Homo sapiens: one gene and its partners. The protein of the gene in region 1 interacts with the protein of each later gene in a pairwise test. Each region holds a gene or a part of one and is shown in the gene's direction. Other genes may lie near its edges. The genes, in order: KCNMB1, STX8 and CLCA1.

The links.
Region 2: the proteins of KCNMB1 (region 1) and STX8 interact in binary tests that used the Homo sapiens proteins (3 or more experiments, as listed by UniProt).
Region 3: the proteins of KCNMB1 (region 1) and CLCA1 interact in a two-hybrid assay, tested with the Homo sapiens proteins (one study listed by BioGRID).

What each region holds. Positions count from the first base shown.
Region 1 is NC_000005.10:170,386,287-170,394,277, reverse strand, and holds the start of KCNMB1 (calcium-activated potassium channel subunit beta-1), read left to right. Parts: upstream 1-4,910; 5' UTR 4,911-5,019; intron 5,020-7,991. UniProt on the Homo sapiens protein: Regulatory subunit of the calcium activated potassium KCNMA1 (maxiK) channel. Modulates the calcium sensitivity and gating kinetics of KCNMA1, thereby contributing to KCNMA1 channel diversity.
Region 2 is NC_000017.11:9,544,759-9,551,864, reverse strand, and holds part of STX8 (syntaxin-8), read left to right. Parts: intron 1-6,582; coding exon 6,583-6,693; intron 6,694-7,106. UniProt on the Homo sapiens protein: Vesicle trafficking protein that functions in the early secretory pathway, possibly by mediating retrograde transport from cis-Golgi membranes to the ER.
Region 3 is NC_000001.11:86,464,427-86,471,971, forward strand, and holds the start of CLCA1 (calcium-activated chloride channel regulator 1 precursor), read left to right. Parts: upstream 1-4,500; 5' UTR 4,501-4,545; coding exon 4,546-4,707; intron 4,708-7,545. UniProt on the Homo sapiens protein: May be involved in mediating calcium-activated chloride conductance. May play critical roles in goblet cell metaplasia, mucus hypersecretion, cystic fibrosis and AHR. May be involved in the regulation of mucus production and/or secretion by goblet cells.

The sequences.
Region 1 (7,991 bases):
GCATGCGGTGCTCCCAGCATGCGGAAGCAGAGCTTCCGCCTGGCCCAGGAGGCGCGGAGAGTGGCTAAGGGGCTGGGGGCGAGGGAAGGCCCCAGCGGGGAGTCCTGTGGAAGAGGAAGAGCTGGCCAGGAGGCAAGGACAGAGGAGACATGTGCCATGGAAGGAGAGGGCACATGCTTCCTTTATGTGTGTTGAAAAGGCCACCACCACTCTTACAGCAACTCTCTCTGAGCAGTGAGGCTAACACTGTACCTCATCTTCTCCCTGCACTTCCACATCATGCCACTTTCCCACAGAGCTGGGATGATTTGCACTAAGGAAAAAGCATTTTTTTAAAAAAACCAACCTTACCACACAGACAGACAGCAGGGCTGTTTATTTATTTATGCTCCTCTTTGTCTCAAAGAGGATTTTCAAGGTGCTTACAATTATGTTAACAGCATGGCAGGATAAAGGAAGAAAAATCAGGCCAAGGGAAAATATGGTGAAAAGAGTCAGAGGAAAAAGGAGTGAGTATCACCCTACACAGCAGGGAACAACTTTACCATGTTTTTTGTCGTGTCTTGTTGTGTGACCATTTAATTGTAATATCGGCATTTACTTTTGCTGTTGTTATACTTTGTCATCTCAACTCTACTAAAAAACCTCCCACCGTTATTTCCTCTGCCTTTTATTACTGTCTCTCATTTAAAACACATCTTTCACTTTCTGTTCTGTATTTTTGTAGTTGAGGAAATCTGGCATCGCTTTTCTGCAGTGAAGGGACCGTGTCTGAGTCACCTCGGCACAGTGGTGTATCCAGAGCCTCTGCATAGCAAGTGCTGGGATGTCTGTGAACGCACAGCTTCGCTAGGACTGAGAGTGACTAACACCCATCCCTGCAGCACTCAGAGAGGCACACACAGGGGCTCAAGACTCAGTTGCCAATTTGATTTATGGGACTTATTATCCCAAGTGTCAGCAGAGAGGAGATATTGATTCAGAAAGACTTAAATAAACAAGCAGGTGCATAATCCAGAGAGGGGTACAGACTGAGCTGAGGGTGTCTGGAAAGCAGTGGAAGCAGACATCATGAAGAAACCTGGGGTCTCTTGAAAACTGCTCCCAAGGGAGTCATGGGGTGACAGAGGGGCAGGGACGGGCTGTGGAGTCAGCGGGCACAGGTGCACTCCAGGCTCCATCACATCACACGCTAGGGGCGTGACCTTGGGAAAATCACTTTGCCTTGTGCTTTTACAGAAAGAACAAGGCCTTTTGTGGGGGATTGTGGAGAGGAATGTCCATGTGTATGTGTATGTGTATGTATTGCATATCTATGTGGTCATTCCCTGGTACATAGTAGGTGCTTCATAAACAAAAATACCCTCCCATATCACTGCCCTTCTATTCCATTTGTGCCATAGTGTGTGACCTAAGAGTAGATAAAGCACTTTTTTTGTTTGTTTGTTTTGGTTTAGATGGAGTCTCACTCTGTCGCCCAGGCTGGAGTACAGTGGCTCAATCTCAGCTCACTGCGACCTCCGCCTCCTGGATTCAAGTGATTTTCATGCCTCGGCTTCCCAGAATAGCTGGGATTATAGGCACCTGCCATCGTGCCCAGCTAATTTTTGTATTTTTAGTAGAAACGGGGTTTCGCCATGTTGGCCAGGCTGGTCTCGAACTACTGGCCTCAAATGAACCGCCTGCCTTGGTCTCGAAAAGTGCTAGGATTACAGGCATGAGCCACCATGCCCTACCTAGATAAAGCATTTCTAAACTCTCCTGTAACACTCCATATAGCAATCTCAGGTGTTTTAATTCTCACTGGTTTAATCCTACCACTATCACCAGCAACTGTAACAGTCCCCCTTTGAAATCACTTGCAAGTGTGTTCCAGTTACTATGACTGCATAACAAATTACCCCAAAACGCAGGGGCATGAAACATTAGTTTTTTTCTTCTCGTGGATTTTGTGGCTCTGGAATTCAGAGAGAGCACAGAGCAGGTGGGCTGTCTCTGCTCCACATTCTCTGAGGCCTCAGCTGGGAGGCTGGCAGGCTGGGGGCTGGAACTGTCTGCAGGCTTGTTCTCTCCCATGCCCGGTGAGATTTGCTAGCTGTTGGCTGAGATCTGAGCTGAGGCTGTCAGCTGGAGCACGGGGCCTCGGCTTCCTACAACATGGTGGCTGGTTCCCAGGTACATGTCCCGAGAGCGTGTGGGGGGAACTCGAGCCCCCGTCTATGACTTAGCCTTGAACATCGTGCTGTGTCCTTCTACCATATTCTACTATTGAGGCCCTTACGAAGCTCCACCCAGGGTGAAGGGGAAGAGACATCAATGCCCCTCTTGATGGTGGAGTGTTGATGCCACACTGTGAAAAGGGCACATGGAATGGGAAGTATTTGGTGTGACCATCTTTGGAAAGGACAATCTCCATACTATGTGTCAGGTAGCTTAGGTGATCTCTCATTCCTCAAAAACACTGAGGGGCTAGGTATAATTATCTCTATTTTAGAGACAGACAAACTGAAGCTTAGAGAGGCAAAGTAACTTGCTTGGGCAATTTATTTCACCTCTCTGAGGCTCAGTTACTCCCTCTATCAAATGGGTAGAAAAATCTCCACCTCAGTGGTCTATTGTGAGCCTATTGTGCTAGTACCTTAAGAAGCTGTTGGAAGAGTCAGAGAAGATATTTTGTGATCTCTGACACCCCGTACTAATGCAAACCGTCAATATTTATTGTTGCAGCATTGTTATTTTCTTGCCCTCCACCTGTAGCCATCTGTCACACACAACCCCGCAGCCAGCAAAGGACCTGGGTTTTCACCCACAAACCCTCGAGGACAGGGCTTGTCAATGCCTTTTGGTTGTGGCTCATTTAGGGGGAGCAGAAGACCCCACGGCCCCCCTTCCCTGTTTGTTCCCACCTTCCCTTGGGAAGAATGCTAAAGTTTGTTTATGATTTCCAAATAATATGTAGCCCTTAATAACTTATTCAGAGTATCACGAGCAAGGAGCCCTTCGGTTATACTCATAAATGGCAGCCTGTTGCACTGTGTATCTCTCCCCCAGGGAAGCAGGAGGGGGGCCTGGCATTTCTGGATTAGCCCCAGGAGGACTTTTCCTGCTTCTGAGTGGACAGAGGATCATCCTTGGAAAATTGCTCTTCTGAGATTGAATTCCAGATCCTACATCCCTCTGTCAATCTGCCTGCAAGGTCTGAAGCTGGTCTTAGACCCTCTGGTGCTATGGTGCCCATTAAACAGACACTGTAGTCTCCTGTTAATAAGATTCAATTAGGAAAGGGGTGGAGAAGGGCACTCACCGCCTGAGAGTGTGTCAGGGAGGCCTGAGTGGCTGCCTTCATTTCGCGCCTGCTGGAGGCAGGAGGGAGGAAGGTGGTGAGCTCGCTCAGCAGGGAAGGCCAGGCTGCACCCACCTCCCTGGGGGCTGGGGAAACTCAGGGTGACCTCCAGAGCCTCAGGTGGCAGCTTACTGTATGATCGAGGTGATTTTTAATGTCTCAGAGCAGCCCCAGGGTCATCAGAGACAGACCAAGCTGTGCCATCTGGAAGGGCCAGCTTCGAATCTAGTTCTGGCCCCTAGGGTTGCACCAGTGACTTCAAGCCTCCAAGTCTCAGTTTCAGGTTCTTTGATTCTTGGGTCAAGTGAAGGGTGGAGATAAGCTGCCTTCTACCACCACGCCTGATACTTAGGAAAGCCCCAATATCTGGGATTGTTTTTGTTGTTTTGTTGAAAATATATATATATATATATATATTTGTTTTTTTTTTTTGAGACGGGGTCTCGCTCTGTTCAGGCTAGAGTGCAGTGGCACAATCTTGACTCACTGCAACCTCCGCCTCCCAGGTTCAAGCGATTCTCCTGCCTCAGCCTCCCAAGTAGCTGGGACCACAGGCATGCACCACTATGCCCGACTAATTTTTGTATTTTTAGTAGAGATGGGGTTTCGCCATGTTGCCCAGGATGGTCTCAAACTCCTGGGCTTGAGCAATCCATCTACCTTGGCATCCCAAAGTGCTGGGATTATGGGCGTGGGCCACTGTGCCTGCCCTTTGTTGCTGATTTTTAATCCTTACTTCCACTTTACAGATGAAGAAGCAGAGATCTAAAAGCATGTTTTTTGCCTGCAAATGCTGACATTCACTTGTCTTATTGCTAGGAAGAAATCTCTGTACTTTCGCGGTCTCTGGGAGGGCCCCTGGTGAGCAGACTGTCCCTGGACCTGGTTGGAAGCAGTTGTGGAGCTCTCACTACTCCCAGCTTCAGCTCAGTTGGTCCTTAAAAAGTCAGTTCTCTCCCCTTGCCATAAATCCCCACCGTCTCTAACTCCCATCACTACCCTAAAGCAAAGTAGGTTTTAAAAATGCCAGTAACACAAGTGAGAAAACTGAGGTCATTTAACGATAAGTTTGGGAGTAAAACCAAAAACAAAAAAGGAAACTGAGGCCCAGAGAGGTGCCATAACTTGCTCAGGGTCACACAGCACGTAAGTGCCAAAGGCAGGGAGCTGTAGCTGCTCCAGCGTGGATATGCCAGGGACTAGTGACAAGCCCAACCCCTCCAGCCCAACTCCACCCTTCCTCATGCCAACAAAAGGAGAATCATTTCCTATTTCTGGCATCTTTGCCAGCCCACAGAGACAGAGAGAAGAAGAAATATTTCCAAATATACCAGGCTGATCTTTCGTAGTTTCTCAGTCTTGCTGTCTGTTGTTGTTTGAAATCTGTTTCCCACGAGACTCTGGGAAGATGGAGGTGCAGGGCTTGGGTAACAGCTGCCTTCCTCAGGGCTGGGTACCTGCTCTCCGAGTCTGTGTCTCCAGGCTGTGTGCTCAGACTTGACCATGTTTGGGCATGGAGGCTTGCCCCAGATGGGGACCAAAAGCTGCTTCCCTGGAGACGGGCGGGGAGGCCAAACTTCCTGCTGAAGCTCTGTGGCCTCTTTTGGGGTGGGGGCGGGGGTCCAGGCAGAAAGAAACTGTCTGCTGCTCAAGACCCACAGGACGCCGGGAAGACTGTGAGTACCGGGCCTGAAAGCACTTGGGAAGTGATTTCTCTGAAGACCGGGCTGGAGGGAGACAGGGGAAAGCAGCCTGCCACGGGGCAGGGAGGGAGGCAGGCAGGAGGACTCCCTTCCTCTCGGGGCTGTCCTTCTGGATGGAGGGCCCGTGGTCTGGTGGCCAGTGGGGAGGGTGGCACAGTGGCCAGGTTACTCTGGTAGTAAGCGCCCTGGCCCTCTAGGTCCCAGTTCTCAGAGTGGCCAGAAGGCTGCAGCCTGGAGATTAACACCAATGCTGGCACTTGTCACCGGTAGAGAGGTGGGACAAAAATAGATTCATCAAGAGGGGTCCAGACTTCTGCTCCAAACTTTCAGGGTTTCCTTCGTTAGTAGTAATAGCTAATATTTACTGGGGGCTGATTTGGGGCTAGGTGCTATGATACATGTCTGATACTCAATATGGCATTTGATCTTTAGCTGAACTCTCTGAGGCAGGTACCATGGTTCTCGTTTCACAGTCATGTGGTTGCTAAGTGTAAGTGGCAGAGCCAGGATTTGATTCCATGTCTGAGGACCTCAGAATCGCCCTGTCCACACCCCACCAAACTGTTCAACAATGTACTCTATTCCTTGTCCTTCTAAGGAAAAGGATGTCGACCCAGCTATCAGGTCACCCAGGACACTCCAAAGTCCTGCCTTCCTTTGTCCTTCTCCATCTTCTCTGAATCTATCCCAGATCTCAAGTGACCTTTCTAAATGGGAAGATATATCCTGGAACTTCAGAGATATTTAGAAATGCTCAAAACTGGGAAGTTCTTCTTACAGTCTAACTGAAATCCCTCCTATGATAGCTGAAACCCACTTCTTCCTTTTCTTTCTGTCCCTTGGGGGATATTGACAGTTCCCATCCTTCCTCCCGCCAAAGGTTCTCCCTTTGGATGCTGAATACTAACTTCTTGCTGAAGTCATATCTACACTGAACCCCACGCATGGTCTTAGGAGGATTTATCATGACTCTATAAACTCACTCAGTGCAGGCAACAATCTCATCAGACCATTAGAGACGGGTCAGACCTGAATAAGCCAAGTTTCCAGACTTCTCTGTGACAGGGAAGCCTCTCCTTTCCTTTCCTTCTGAGCTCCTAAAACTGGTAAAACCAGGTTCCTGCCTTCACCAGCCTCAGGAGTGCCCAGGGGCCTGAGAGGGCACTAGAAGCCAAATAGCAGAGGAGGCCATGGCCCTGGGCGCTGGGGGGGGCTGATTAGCCAGGAAGGAGCCACAGGAAGCCCCCACAGGTGCGATCCAGTTCCCCCAGGAGAGAAATGGCTTTGTTGTGGGCACTCAGCCCTAGGCTTCCAAGATGGGATTTCCCATTGGCTTCAAATGATTTATGTCTCACAGTATCTGGGGTGGGGCCAAGTGCCAGTGACCCTTGCAGGTCCTGGGGAAGCAGGCTGTTGGGGCTTTTAGCTTACCTCCAGGTGATTCTGTTGCTTTACCTGTGAATACATGGAGAGTCTTGTTCAACTGACGCCAGGTAGAAAAAGGCATGGGCTCTCCCATTCCCACAAGATCACAGAACAGGAGGAAAAGGATTGAATAAAAAGAGTTGAATAAAACATCTCTCTTTGTCGGGGGCAATTTCTGCTTGCTTGTGCTTTTATAATGTCTCCATTAGAATGCAGGAGAAACTCACCTCCTGGTGCCAAATAAAGGAGAAAAAGTTGTCATTGGATGTCACCTCTGCCGATCGATAGGGGAGGTGGACCAGCTCACTGGGAAGGTGTGATGGGTATCCGTGGTGCCTGACCCTGGTCTCTTCCCTTTAGCGGAGATGCCCGGGTATGAGGGCAGCCTGGCTAAGGGGAGGGAGTCAAGAATCTCTGAATATTTGAAACAGTCTAGTAGTTAAGAGACGCCTGAGCAGAAAATAGAGCACTTTGCAGAAAATCTCTTTGGACTAAGGCCTGTCACCCGGACACTGGCTAATTAAACAAACAAAAACCATAATATGTTTATTACTTTAGGGACCTGGCAAGGAGAATAAAGTCCCCCTGATATCTGGCTAAAATTTCCCCTAAATTCCCCTAAAATTTCCCCTAAAATGGAGGATTACATTGATAGCTTCCTGGTATTTTTGGTAGAAATGGACTCTGGTTACTTTAAACAAATAAAAACAACAGCAAATAAATTTACCAGAGGCTCTAGGACAGCTTGCGGAACCATGGGAAATCACGCGGGGACCATGGCTGGGCATCTCTGTGGCTCCAGGCGGCATAGATTGAGGGGCTGTTTCTTGAAGTCTTTGTCAAGACTCACACTCCTGGGGGAGCGATCAGGAGCCTAGCAGGGGAGGGTGGAATCTTTGCTTGCATTGGGGTGGAGTCAATGTCCAGGGGAAAAACAAGGAGTTGCTGCCTAAAGAAAGAGGAGAGAAGGAAAGCAACCACCAGCAGAATGTGCCCATTCTGCTTTGTCCCAGGTGGCTTCAAGCCCTGAAATAAGAAAGCAGTCGCTGAGGCCACCATGATGCCTTCTTTCTTCTTTCTTTGCTTGAAGTAGGGGAATGTTCCTTACAAAAAAAAAAAACACCGGAATATGGTAAACCTCCTGCCTCTCCTGACAACCTGCAGCTGCCTTCTGGGGCCCTCCTCTCCTTTCCCTGCCTGTGCCCGGCCCAGCTAGCCCTGCCACAGAACTGTTTCTGGGCAGAAATACTCCAAGTATCCCTGTGAGATAAGTGCCGTGGAAGGAGGTGCATGGATGATGCACATGTACTGCTCGCTCACCGCATGGGACCTATGACTGTTGTAGCAAATGATCATAAACCTGACGGCCTCAAACGACAGAAATTTCACCAGAAGTCCAAAATCACCAAGGTGTCTGCAGGCTGCACTCCCTGCAGTGGCCGTGGGGGATGAGCCATTGTTCCTTGCCCCCGCCAGCTTCTGACGCACTCCTTGGCCTGTGGTCACATCACTCTAATTGC
Region 2 (7,106 bases), on another chromosome or scaffold:
CGAAACCTGAATGTCTAGGTGCCATTGGTATCGTGGGAACAACATCGGCTCTGAAAGCAGACAGAACTGAGATTGAAGACCAGCTCTGCCACTTACCAAGGCCAAACAGCAGTTCAGCTTTTCTGGACCTTAGTTTCATTATCTGTAATGTAGGAATAATCATACTTTGCCAGGTTATTGTACAAGTTGAAGAAAATCTTTTTTCTTCACAGGACTAGCCCCCCATAATGGTGGGTGTTGAATAAAAGGTGGTTACCAACACCCCTGGGGAAGTTACTTAACCTCTTTGTGCCTCATTTGTGGAATGGGATGCTAGAAGTCCACCTGGCGTAAAGGATTGTTGTGTAAGGATGAGATTATATGCATACAGGGTGCTTCACATATACTAAGTCCTCCTTGAGGATTAGCTGCTATTGATTATTTTATCATTATTGTAAAGATTTCAGCTACCATTGAGAATTTACAGGTCATCCTTTCTTTGTGGAGTTTTTAATCATGCATGATGGTTATGTCAAAACTCACAAACAATGATGGTATTAAAATAGTACTTGCAAAATGTGATCAGTGCTTTGAGGAAGGTAAGGACTTGGCCTGGTACATCATAAATATTTATTAGAGTTTGTTGACTTAAAAAAAGAAAGCCAGAAAAGTCTTTTGACCTCTAGAACCTTAAACTGTTCCCTTGCAGTTCTTCTTTTTTGGCATGGAGAATTAATTATCTGCAAACTTCTTCCTTCGCCAGAGCAGCTCTTTCACAAAATAAGGCTTACCTAAATTCTATTTTTTTTTGAGACGGAGTTTCACTCTTGTTGCCCAGTCTGGAGCACAATGGTGCGATCTCAGCTCACTGCAACCACCGCCTCACAGGTTCAAGCGATTCTCCTACCCCAGCCTCCCAAGTACCTGGGATTACAGGTGTGCACCACTACACCTGGCTAATTTTTGTGTTTTTGGTAGAGATGGGGTTTTGCCATGTTGGCCAGGCTGGTCTCAAACTCCTGACCTCAGGTGATTCACCCACCTCAACATCCCAAAGTGCTGGGATTACAGGTGTGAGCGACTGTGCCCAGCCTAAATTCTTAAGCCTTCTACCAAATATAAGAGAAAATCCAGGAGCTGGAGTGGGATTGGGTGACCTGTGGATCCAGTTGCATATTTACCCCGCTCCATCTGTGGTTCAAATGCTCACCAGGCTACAGCAGAGAAGCTGGACTTATGCATGCTGGTAGTAGGTATCAGTAATATGAAATCAGGATCCAGTTTTATTTTTATTTTTATTTATTTATTTTTTGAGATGGAGTCTCGCTGTGTCACCCAGGCTCGAGTGCAGTGGCACGATCTTGGCTCACTGCAAGCTCCACCTCCCGGGTTCACGCCATTCTCCTGCCTTAGCCTCCCGAGTAGCTGGGACTACAGGGGATCCAGTTTTATTTACAACCTTACATATCCATGAATTGGCTATAATTACATGTACAATCAGCATAGCCAAGGACAAAGTACTATGATAGTTAGCTCTTCTCTTCCTTTTCTTTATCTGTCTGTTCTCTTATCTTCTTCCTTGGCTATTCACCAGGTTGGTGGAAGAGGAGGTTCCCCAGCACTGGCCACTGACTGTGTGCTGTACTACTTTTTTTTTTTTTTGAGATGGAGTCTCACTTTGTTGCCCAGGCTGGAGTGCAGTGGCACGATCTTGGCTCACTGCAACCTCTGCCTCCCGGGTTCCAGCGATTCTCCTGCCTCAGCCTCCTGAGTAGCTGGGACTACAGGCGTGTGCCACCACACCCAGCTAATTTTTGTATTTTTTTAGTACAGATGGGGTTTCACCGTGTTGTCCAGGCTGGTCTCGAACTCCTGACCTCATGATCCGCCTGCCTCAGCCTTCCAAAGTGCTGGGATTACAGGCTTGAGCCACCGCGCTTGGCCTGTGTGTCCTACTTTCTACTTGTCCTTAGCATCACTCAGGCACACTGTTTCCCCACTACCCTACTTTACCCAACTGCTACGCACCTGTCCACATACATGCTGTATAGATTGTTTCCTGGATGATCCTTTGACCTCTTACTAATAACAACCCTTACATAGCAAGGGTGCTATGCAGATGGTTCATTAATCAATTTATTCTCATTCCATCTCCCTCCTCCCCATCTCCTTATGCTCTGTTCTCTCCGTAGATTAAAATATAAAACAAAGAGGCAGCATGTTCCTAATTGGATTGTTTTCCAGATTTACAGAGTCTCTGGGAATATTCTGAATTCGTACTCCCAGTATTGTTTTTATCAGGATTCTAAGAAGTGGCAAAGTTAAGTCAGCATCTCAAGGTGGAGAAGTCTGCAGAATGTTTGGTGGAAAAGCCATGAGCTAGGGTTGAAAGAGCTGTCACCTAGCATGGCTGTTAACCCAGGCAAGTGACTTAGCCATGCTCACCCTTAATTTCTGGTCAGCAAAACAAGAGAACTGGGATCTTTAAGGCCTCTTCTAGCATCAACTGTGTGGGTTTCTGTTCTTTGGTTACTCATCTACAAAACATAGTCATCAAGTTTTACTGTTTCTGAAACTGATGTTCTTTGTTAGCTCCTTCTTGACGTAAGTTTAAATCTGTAACTAGTATCTGCTGATTTTAAAATGTACCTTTATTGTTTTTATTACAAAAAATATTATACTTTCTACTGATACATTTCTCATTAGTTATTACCAATGACTCCTCTTTCTCTTCCTTATTCTATCCTGTCTCATCTCATTCTTTATAGTTAAGTGTTAATGGTTGGTAGCTAGTATCTCAGACTTTTCTAGGCTTGAAATATATGCATATGTAAACATAAAATTCCTTTGACTATAAAGGGATTATATTATACATATGGTTCTGAAGCTTGTGTTTTTATTAATTAGCAGATGATAGAGACAAACATTAGGAAACAATATTCAGTGAAACATCAGTCTCTCTTATACCCTTAATCCTCAGTTGTCCTTCCTTAGAGGCAATGTTTATATATCAGAAATTTTCTGTGTGTATATACACACATATATAGTTAGGATTTTTTTTTAACAAAGTGGGAGCACACTACTCACTGTTTAGCTCCTTGCTGCTGCTGTTTTTTTCCCCTCCTTTGGTTTAATGTTATATTTTGTAGATTATTCCATGTCAAATAATTCATGTAAACACTTAGTAAGTGCTCAAAAATGTTAATTATCATTATCAGCCCCCTAAACAGCTTTCCTATTCTTTTTTTAAGGCTGCAAAACATTCCATTGTTTACATACACTAGTTACTTATTGATATTTCCAATGTGGCTATTATAAATAATGGTTCAGTGGACATCCTTGCTTCTAAGTCCTTGTAGGACTGTATCTGAGGAAGAAATGTCTGTTGAAAGACTGTACCTTTTATATTTTGTTAGGTATTTAGAAGGCAGTCTAGCAGTTGGTTGAACCTGTTTGCATTCCTATCAAGAATGTATGAGGTGGCCGGGTATGGTGGCTCATGCCTGTAATCCCAGCACTTTGGGAGGCCGAGGTGGGTGGATCACTTGAGGTCAGGAGTTCGAGACCAGCCTGGACAACATGGTGAAACCCCATCTCTACTGAAAACACAAAAATTAGCTGGGCATGGTGGCATGTGCATGTAATCCCAGCTACTTGGGAGGCTGAGGCAGGAGAATTGCTTAAACTCTGGAGCTGGAGGTTGCAGTGAGCCAAGATCATGCCACTGCACTCCAGGCTGGGCGACAGAGGGAGACACTGTCTCAAAAAATAATAATAATAATAAAGAAAGAATGTATAAGGTCAGGTGAAGTGGCTCATGCTTGTAATCCCAGCACTTTGGGAGGCAGGAGGGTCACTTTAGATTAGGAGTTTGAGACCAGCCTGGCCAACATGGTGAAATCCTGTCTCTCAAAAAAACCCACAAAAATTAGCTGGGTGTGGTGGTGGACACCTGTAATCCCTGCTACTTGGGGAGCTGAGAGGAGAATTGCTTGAACCCAGGTAGTGGAGGTTGCAGTGAGCCAAGGTTGCAACACTGCATTTCAGCCTGGGATGATAGAGCAAGACTCCATCTTAACAAAACAAAACAAAAAAAAAAAAAAGAAAAGAAAAGAAAAGGAAAGAATGTATGAGAGTGTCTGGTTCCTTGTCCCTTTCCAAAACTGTCTTCTCAGTTTCCTAATCTGATAGGTGGAAGTGGTATCTTGTTTTAGTGTGTATTTCTTTTCTTTTCTTTTCTTTTTTCTTTTTTTTTTTTGAGACGGAGTCTTGCTCTGTCACCCAGGCTGGAGTGCAGTGGCACAGTCTCGGCTCACTGCAACCTCCGCCTCCCGGGTTCAAGTGATTCTCCTGCCTCAGCCTCCTGCGTAGCTGCGATTGTGCGCCACCATGCCCAGCTAATTTTTGTGTTTTTAGTAGAGATGGGGTTTCACCATATTGGTCAGGCTGGTCTCGAACTCCTGACCTCGTGATCCACCTGCCTTGACCTGCTGGGATTACAGGCGTAAGCCACCACACCTGGCCAGATATATTTTAAAAGTGTTTGTTAGCTTTCTCCACTCATTCATTTTATGGCAGAAGTTGTTTCCAAACATATCCTTTACTGTGTTTCTTTTTTCTTTTTTTTTTTTTTTTTTTTGAGACAGAGTCTCGCTCTTTCACCAGGCTGGAGCGCAGTGGCGCGATCTCGGCTCACTGCAACCTCCGCCTCCCGGGTTCAAGCGATTTTCCTGCCTCAGCCTCCCGAGTAGCTGGGACTACAGGCGCACGCCACCACGCCTGGCTAGTTTTTATATTTTTAGTAGAGACGGGGTTTTACCGTGTTTGCCAGGATGGTTTCCATCTCTTGACCTTGTGATCCGCCCACTTCAGCCTCCCAGAGTGCTGGGATTACAGGCGTTGAGCCACCGCGTCCAGCCCTTCTGTGTTTCTTAACATACCACACACATAGACACAGTTCAGCCTAAAAACAAACAAACAAAAACTTGTGTCTGGGCGCACTGGCTCACACCTGTAATCCCAGCACTTTGGGAGGCTGAGGTGAACGGATCATGAGGTCAAGAGATCGAGACCATCCTGGCCAACATGGTGAAAACCTGTCTCTACCAAAAATACAAAAAATTAGCTGCGCGTGGTGGCACGTGCCTGTAGTCCCAGCTACTCAGGAGGCTGAGGCAGGAGAATCGCTTGAACCCGGGTGGCGGAGGTTGCAGTGAGCCGAGATCGCGCCACTGCACTCCAGCCTGTAGACAGAACAAGGCTCCGTCTCCAAAAAAAAAAAAAAAAAAAAAAAACCACTTTTGTAGTTTGCATCAAGAAAGCTAGTATATAAAACTTTGTACTTAGTCCAAGGGAAGTGGCGCCGGTTGTTGACAGACGCCACTTCCCTTTTTGCTTCATGCGCACGCGCCGCATTCTCGTCCACCTATTGGTGAATTGTAGGTTTCTTTCCAAAGACTACATTTCCCAGAAGGATGGTTGTTTGGTTTTTTTTTTTTAACCATCACTTATGAATTGTTGTGGAAAAGATGTTAGAGACTATTTAGTGTTACATATAAAGAAAGAGAGATCCCAAAAGGTGAAATAACTGGTTCAAGAGCATAGATAGTGGAATAGGGCTACAACTCTGCCTCTGGGGCTCCTAGTCTAGCGTGTTTGCTAGATTCACACATTAAAATGATTCTCTTTGTAATTTTCTTTACAAATCATGCAATGTATTTAAATAGTGAACTGATGGTAACAATTTATAGAGCAAATCTGTTGCATAAAGTAGCACTTTATAAATATCCTAGGTGTGTTAATAGATATTAACATGGAAGAAAGAGAGCAATATAGAGAACTTCTCTCCCCCAGCGCCCCCACTTTTTTAAACAGAGCATCTTAGGGTATTAATATGTAGGAAAATGCCCTGGAACACTGACACACACATATAACTCAAAACCTAAGGAATCACTGAGCCAGGTTGCACCATTGGCAGGAGAAGTCATTTAAATTTGGTCACTGGGGCTGGGCGTGGTGACTCACGCCTTGTAATTCCAGCACTTTGGGAGGCCAAGGCAGGCAGATCACCTGAGGTCATGAGTTCGAGACCAGCCTGGCCAGCATGGCAAAAACCCGTCTCTAATAAAAATACAAAACTTAGCCGGTTGTGGTGGTGCACGTCTGTAAGCCCAGCTACTCGGGAGGCTGAGGCAGGAGAACTGCTTGAACCCGGGAGGCAGAGGTTGCAGTGGGCCGAGATCGCGCCATTGCACTCCAGCCTGGGCGACAGAGCGAGACTCTGTCTCAAAAATAAGTAAATAAGTTTGGTCACGGGGAGGAAAGTAATATTTACCTGGTATATTTCTCAATGAAAAACTTGTGTCATGATCCACGTCAGTGTTTATAAGTGCCTCTGCGATGGTCCTGCCAAGGTCCTTTACCTGACGGCCTGGTGAAGGTGAAGGTCAGAGCAGGAAAAACGCAAGAGTGGTGCGCATCCCTTCTGGGTAGTAGTGATTACAGTCTGTAAAAGCCACAACTGACTTGAAGAGCTAACTTAATAATGTAATAGTTAAAACGAGGTCATTTATTCACCATTGAACCTTAACAAGATATCTGCAGAACACAGCTTGAAGGGGACCGAAGACAGAACCTCTTGGATGATCTTGTAACTCGAGAGAGACTACTTCTGGCATCCTTTAAGAATGAGGGTGCCGAACCAGATCTAATCAGGTAGGATGTTTTTATTTACAGGGATTACTTGGTGGGCGAAGACTTCTTTGCAGATACTACAGCTGTTTCCTGAATGGCTTACTTTAGGAATTAATCAAAATCTATTCTATTCATTTATGGTGTTTGACTATAATTTTCTACTCAATTTAGTTTTCGTTAATTTTTGTTTGTTTGTTTGAGACAGAGTCTCGCTCTGTCACCCAGGCTGGAGTGCAGTGGCGTGATCTTGGCTCTCTGCAAGCTCCACCTCCCAGGTTTCCACCATTCTACTGCCTCAGCCTCCCAAGTAGTTGGGATTACAGGCGCCCACCGCCACCGTGCCCGACTAATTTTTTGTATTTTTAGTAGAGATGGGGTTTCACCGTATTAGTCAGGATGGTCTCGATCTCCTGACCTCGTGATCCGCCCGCCTT
Region 3 (7,545 bases), on another chromosome or scaffold:
CACATCTGTAGTCACCTCATGCACAACAAAAGCACAACTGTAATTCAGTAGGGGAAATTATGGTCTTTTCAATAAATACTCTCAACTTACTGGCTATCACAGAGGAAAACAAAACAAAACAAAAACCTTGAACCTTTCCTCACACCATACACAAAAATATTTTGAGATCAATCAGTATACCTAAATGTTAAAGGTCAAGCAGCAAGGCTTCTAGAATCATATATTGTATAATATCTTCATGAATTTGGGAAAGCTGTCTTAAATATGACACAAAAACATTATACATAAAAGATTAAATTGGACTGTACTAAAATTAAAAATCTCTATTCATCTAATGATACTATTAAGGCAAGCTACAAACTAGGAGAAAATATTTTCAATATATCTTTCAATACAAAAGACTCAGTATCCAGAACATATAAAGAACTCCCATAAATCAATAAGAAAAGACAATTTAATTAAAAATTGTGCAAAAAAAAAAACTTGAAGAGATACTTCACAAAAGACCAATATGTATATAAAAAGGTCTTTAACAACATTAGCCATTAGGGAAAATGCAAATCAAAACCACAGAACGATATGACTACACTCCCAAGAAAATGGATAGTTAGAAAGACTGACAGTACAATGTACTGGTGGAAATGTGGAATAACTTGTACAACCACTTGAAAAGTATTTGGGAGATCAACATAATCTAGTATCAAAGAAAAACTTCATGCAAACACTTGTTAAAGATGGTAAGGGGTGGGAGGCATGGTGATAGGTACAAGGACCATTGCAAGGAGGTCTTGCAGTTGGGGAGAGAAAGTAGATTAACTCCAACTCCAATAAGGACAAGTGGGAATTTATAACCAAGGAGAAGGGTGGGGTCAGTGGATGAAAAATGCCTATGAGGAAACATCAAGGATAAGGAATGTCTGGCTAAACTGACTTGATAGGGTTATTGCTGAAGGCAGGCCATGGTGGAAAGATGCTGAGAATGGTCAGATACCAAACGTGGGGATTTTCCCTAAACTGACTTAGCAGGATTCTTGCTCAAACTGGATTCTGCAAGGACAGAGAGGGAAGCCCAAGGTCAGACCTAGTCAGAGAAGACTCAGGATCCTGACTTAAGTTTTGGTCAAAGGAGGGAGTCTTTGTCACTAGATAGATGTATACCCTGTCACCCAGCAATGTCACTCTTTGTATATTTGCAACTGAAATCAATGCTTACATCTATGGCATCTTCATTCATAATAGTCCCAAACTGGAAATAGTCCAAATGTTCATCAAGAGTGGGTGGTAAGTAAATTGCAGTATTTTTTACAGTGGAATGGAATGGAAAAAGAACATATTACTGCTACATTCAACAACTTGGCTGAATCTCATATAGAAAATGTTATGTCACAATAGCGAAATGCAAGAGTACATACAGCATATTTCTGTTTATATGAAGTTCAAAAACAGGCAAAATTAACCTATGTGGCATAGAAGTCAGAATAGCAATTATCTTTTGGGGGGATTTACTGGAAGGGAATGCAAAGGAAACTTCTAGAATGCTGGAAATATTCTTTGGTGAAAGGTTGTCCCTTAGGGTGCTAACTCCCTGCATCTCTGGTTTCTGTTATTTGGCCCATTTGGGCTGCCTCTGACAAAGCCAGATCCCAGTACCATGGTGCAGTGATTTATCTGAGCCAAAAGCCTCCACACATCCATTCAATCCAGACTTGGGAACGGGAGAGAATGGAGGAGCTGCCCCCACAATCTGCACAGTGAAGGCCATGCTAAACTAGGCCCTCTTCCTGGGGAAAGCTAAGAAGAAACACTGGTATTAGGAGATGTGTGAATTTTAGCAGCAGCCAGGACTCTCCACTGAGCAAGCAGCCAAGACCCAGCTTGCAGGGAATGCCAAGCAAATTTGGAGAGCACTTAAACTGAGTCTGTCACACCAGATGACCTCTGTCATAGGGAAATGCAGCAGCTGCAGCCAACAAGGGCAGGACAACTAAAGACCCCACTCAGGGATGAAGGGTGGGATTACCCCAACAAGAGAACAAACAATACAGATCAACCAAAATGCTGAGTAAAAGTGAGGGAAATAGGTGATAAAGGAGGGAGATTATAAAAGCCTTGAGACCAGCTGTAACAGCAGGCATTGCAATTTATTTCAATAACCTTCTTGCCTTATGCACTTGAGCAGATTGCAATTGACCACCACTTTGAAGGAGATTCTGTAAATGATTAAACTTGTACCTTCTCTCAGGGGAAAAGTGAGACAGCTAGTGCTCACACACACAGAAACACAAATCCTACATTATAATATTGGAGCTTGATATGATGAAAGTACTAGAGTGAATCTGAGCAGCTCAGAGTGAACTGTATCAGACTCTTCTTATTGAACCTCCTCAGATTTGCTTGGTTCCATCTGTCTACCGGGCACTCAGTCATTTGCTCCACCTCAGTCACTATCCACTCCTTGCAGGTCCAAGCAGTTCCACTGCCTGAGGTCAAGCTGCCACCTCTTGTAACCCCTGGCTCCTCACATACCACAAGGCATGGGGGTCTCTCTTTCTAAGCGACTGCCGAAAGGGCTGGATGACACAGCCAGGAAGTCTGGGGGGAGATGATCACCTGTAGAAGATGAGAAGGAGCCAAACGCTTTTCCTTCCTCTCTCCAAAGGGCTGCTCCAAGGCGTGGTTTCTTTGCACAGCCCCTTAGGAGACAACCCACACAGGAAGGCAAGGGCGCCTGTGGGCTGGCCTGCTGGGTGTCTCCATTGCAGGGCTTAGTAATGCTCCTCCTTTAGTTGCTTCCCAGCCTTCCCTGACTCATTTCCCCATTCCCTCATTCTCACTGCTCTGGGATTAAACTCTCAAACTCTTAGCACATATGCCTGCCTTAGGCTCTGTTTTTTAGGGAACCCAGGCAAAGACACATACATTTGGGGTCTGAGATATCTTGGAATCTACATTTTTAAATTTTGTATGAATAATAAATGTATATGTATTTTGATATAAAAGCATATTTTGGATCATCTGGACAACCACATTATAATTGAGCATTTCCACTCTATTTCAGTGTTTCCCTTTTAACTGCTTAAGATTATGCTAGATATAAAGGGTATTCAATTAGGAAAAGAGGAAGTCAAATTGTCCCTGTTTGCAGATGACATGATTGTATATCTAGAAAACCCCATTGTCTCAGCCCAAAATCTCCTTAAGCTGATAAGCAACTTCAGCAAAGTCTCAGGATACAAAATCAATGTACAAAAATCACAAGCATTCTTATACACCAACAACAGACAAACAGAGAGCCAAATCATGAGTGAACTCCCATTCACAATTGCTTCAAAGAGAATAAAATACCTAGGAATCCAACTTACAAGGGACGTGAAGGACCTCTTCAAGGAGAACTACAAACCACTGCTCAAGGAAATAAAAGAGGATACAAACAAATGGAAGAACATTTCATGCTCATGGATAGGAAGAATCAATATCGTGAAAATGGCCATACTGCCCAAGGTAATTTACAGATTCAATGCCATCTCCATCAAGCTACCAATGCCTTTCTTCACAGAATTGGAAAAAACTACTTTAAAGTTCATATGGACAAGATGAAATTAATGCTTATCACCATCTGAAGACCAAATGAATTTATGAACGAAGAGATATTTCAAGTATTTCAATACAAGAAAATGGGGGGCCAATTTGAGGTTCCACCTGAGGTTTGGCAAATTGAAAGAATATACACAGCCACTGACAGCCCATAATTCATGTTCCTAGGGACATTTAGTTTCAGCAAAATAATTTAATGATGTTAATTGGAATTTTATTGACTGGTAGGAGCTATGCAATAGAGAAAGCAGAAATCTGATGAGGAACTTGGAGTATGCTTTGCAAAGTAAGATATACATTTTATCTTTACTCTCCATTATAAAATAGTCAATAATATCTACATCACTTGCTAATGCTTTTGGTACAAATGGATGTGGAATATAATTGAATATTTTCTTGTTTAAGGGGAGCATGAAGAGGTGTTGAGGTTATGTCAAGGTAAACAAAACCACCATTGTGGTAAAGACCACCATGAGGGATAACTGAATATATGGCTTACAAAATGTTTACTGAATAAGCAGAACAGTCTGGATTTTCCTGGGCAGGAGGGGGTTGGGGGCTTTGGGTGGGTTGGTGTCCATGGCTTGGTAAACATTTCCAAGAAGTAAACAAACCTATCAGCGGCCAAGCTGCTTGTCACCTGTGAGTGCTTCCAAGGAACCGGATGTGGGCTCCCCCACCCTTACCCCAGCATCTGGCACAGCTGAAGGCAGATGGAAATATTTACAAGTACGCAATTTGAGACTAAGATATTGTTATCATTCTCCTATTGAAGACAAGAGCAATAGTAAAACACATCAGGTCAGGGGGTTAAAGACCTGTGATAAACCACTTCCGATAAGTTGGAAACGTGTGTCTATATTTTCATATCTGTATATATATAATGGTAAAGAAAGACACCTTCGTAACCCGCATTTTCCAAAGAGAGAAATCACAGGGAGATGTACAGCAATGGGGCCATTTAAGAGTTCTGTGTTCATCTTGATTCTTCACCTTCTAGAAGGGGCCCTGAGTAATTCACTCATTCAGCTGAACAACAATGGCTATGAAGGCATTGTCGTTGCAATCGACCCCAATGTGCCAGAAGATGAAACACTCATTCAACAAATAAAGGTAAGTTCATAGTAATTATCCATACTTTTTTAAAAATAGCATAATGTTGTGATAGAGAGAACATGAGTGCCCTATTCCAGCTGCACGACACTGGCATGTATTTTTATGTCTAAGTCTCAGTTTCTTCATCTGTAAAATGGAAATAATAACAAGTTAACCATTAGGATTCTTGTGTCAGATAAGATAATGAATGCAATGCACATAACTCAGAGTGATATACTGTTGGCAACTGATAAATGATAAATTGATATGTACTGCTGTGGATTATGTCACTGAAAATTATTTAGTTCTATAGTAAGGCAGAGTCAGCTACATTTGACAGATATTGTGAGATGCACAGATCCTTTGCCTGATTTTACCCTTGGCACGAGTCAGACTCTCCTTTTATTCTCCTAATAGGAACCCCCTTCCCTGTGATCCTAAAAGGAGCCCCAGATGCAAATCTCTGATATAAGAACAACCCTGACCTTCTGATGGGAGAAAACCTTGCATTTTATCAGTCCCAATTCAAGGGATCCTTTCAGAGATTTCTTGCTACCTCTTATGTAGCAGAAGGGAAAGGAAGAAGACTTCCTGTCCTGGCAGGGGTATCTATACCATTGAAGAAGGTCTTGTACAACAACAAACAGCTAAAACTAAGAGGGAAATGCTTTATAAAAGACCGCCCTGGAATCTGGCTGTAACACATCCAGAGGCAGTGCTGTACTAGTAACAGTATTAGTCTGTAAAATGGGAATAATAATAATAAATATCTCCCTTATCAGATTTTGTGAGGATCAAAGTTTAAAATGCATGCATATAAAGGGAAGCTGGGTGGAGTATGTAAGAATACGGTGCAATACTTTGCATGTCTTCTGTTCATCTAAATTTATCTCAGAACTTTAAAAAATAACTTTAAAAATGCATGCATAGTGCCTGGTACATAGTAAGAGCTCAATAAATGGTGGATATAGTCATTGGCTCTCTCTAGATGGAAAATTAATAGAACAAGGGCCCAGAGGGATTTCCCCAGAGATCCACTGCTCTAAGCAGAGGCAAATATAGAAAGATAATGTTTGGAAAGAAAACCATCTCTACAGTGTGTGGTTAGAGAATTGCAGCAGTAGGGGATAGGGATAGGGAACAGAGTGGAGGGTGTCACTCACCATAAAGCTTACCTACTTAACCCAAAGAGGATCAGGCTGTCTGTGGTAAAAGGGAGATTCAGACCTCTTGAATCTCTCAATCATCTAAAATGTTGAGTGAGTTTTTGATTGTTTCTAAATTTGGAAGTGGCATCAGCAAACATGTGACCAGTGTGTTTCAGTCTCTGGCTAGACAGTGGGGTTCAGCAATATGCCAGAAGGAGAATGTAGATGCCGTATTCATCTTCAGTGACCGTGGTAATTTGTATCTACAGTATATAGTGACTAGAGCTTTCAAAGTGCTTCTACTTCATTGTCCTTGGAGGTTTTCCTCCCGAGATACGTACTTCTCGCTACAATTATTAAATTGTCTTTCCAGTATGGATCCTAAAGTTGGGGGTGAGATAAGTTGGCTTCCATCATTTCCTTCTCTGTAACAAGAACACTTTAGTGAATAGAATGCTCAAAGTCCCTAACTCCTTCCTATTTGATGTTCCAGATCTGCAGAGTTGAGGGACCTCGTTGAGGGCTTGGCCACCTTTCCCAACCATTCCTCCCTCTACTCCAACAACCTTCTTGCTGATGAGAGACTCTCCCCTGGTGCCCCTGTGGGGACAGAAGCCCCTAACTCAGCTTTTAAAATATTTGCTTCAGCAGGACAGTCCCCAGATTTCCCCACCTACAAGAGCAGTTAATCGCTCTGCACCACTTCCATCCACTGCATTCTTGCTAATATTAGCAGGGGGAGTACACGTCACAAGATGAGGAAGGGAGAGTCAGAGAGAAACTCTCTCTTCCCCCGTCAAATATACATACACACACACCACACGCACAAGCTCGTGTGCACACACACACGCCCATGCACACACGCAGACATACACGCACACACGCACGTCAGAAGGTACACAGTAGGGTTATTTTGGAGTCTCTGCAATGCTCAGCACCCCAGGCACTGTGCCTGTCTTGGCAGTTCTATACCACTTTGCCATTTACTAAACCCACTTTATTTATCCATTTGTTTGTTTATTCATTCAACAAATATTTACAGAGCATCTAAATTATGTCAGGTACTAGAAGTCCAGTGGTCAATATACTGTCCCTGTCCTGAAGGAATTTCTAGCCCATTCTATAAACTGTCACCCCCAACCTTCTCTCAGCCTAAGAGTCTAAATATGTATTAGGATATGAGGTCATTTTCTGAAAATCTGAAACAGATGCCAAAACAAAGATCCCTTATTATTGTTTCTATTACAATGTGGAAGACAAGAGCATTTCATGGTACTTATTCTTCCTGGGAGACATTGGAAATTCACATTTCACAAGTCAAATGGTAAAACAATACTCTAATATATGAAGTTTTATACCTACTTTTCAAGTTTTTGGTGATCTTGGCTCATTTTTTAATTTTATTTTTTAAAGTGACATAATATTAAACTCTCCTAGTGAGTGTTAAAAATCTGGGAGTTTTAGAAGGAGAAAATGTAAATCATTAAGAACACTTAAAAAAATAGAGGCAACCATTATTATCACTATTTGAAAGGGAGAAATTGAGGCTCAGAGAAGTAAAATAAGTTCTTTAAGTTTACCCCTTAGGAAGAGGCACAGCAGGACTTACCCGTGCACTAACACCCAAGTGCTGCTTCCCCATAAAATGGTGAAGCATTTCTGCTCCTAACACGACCCCCACTAGGCAATGGAGTCTAGTCACTCTGGT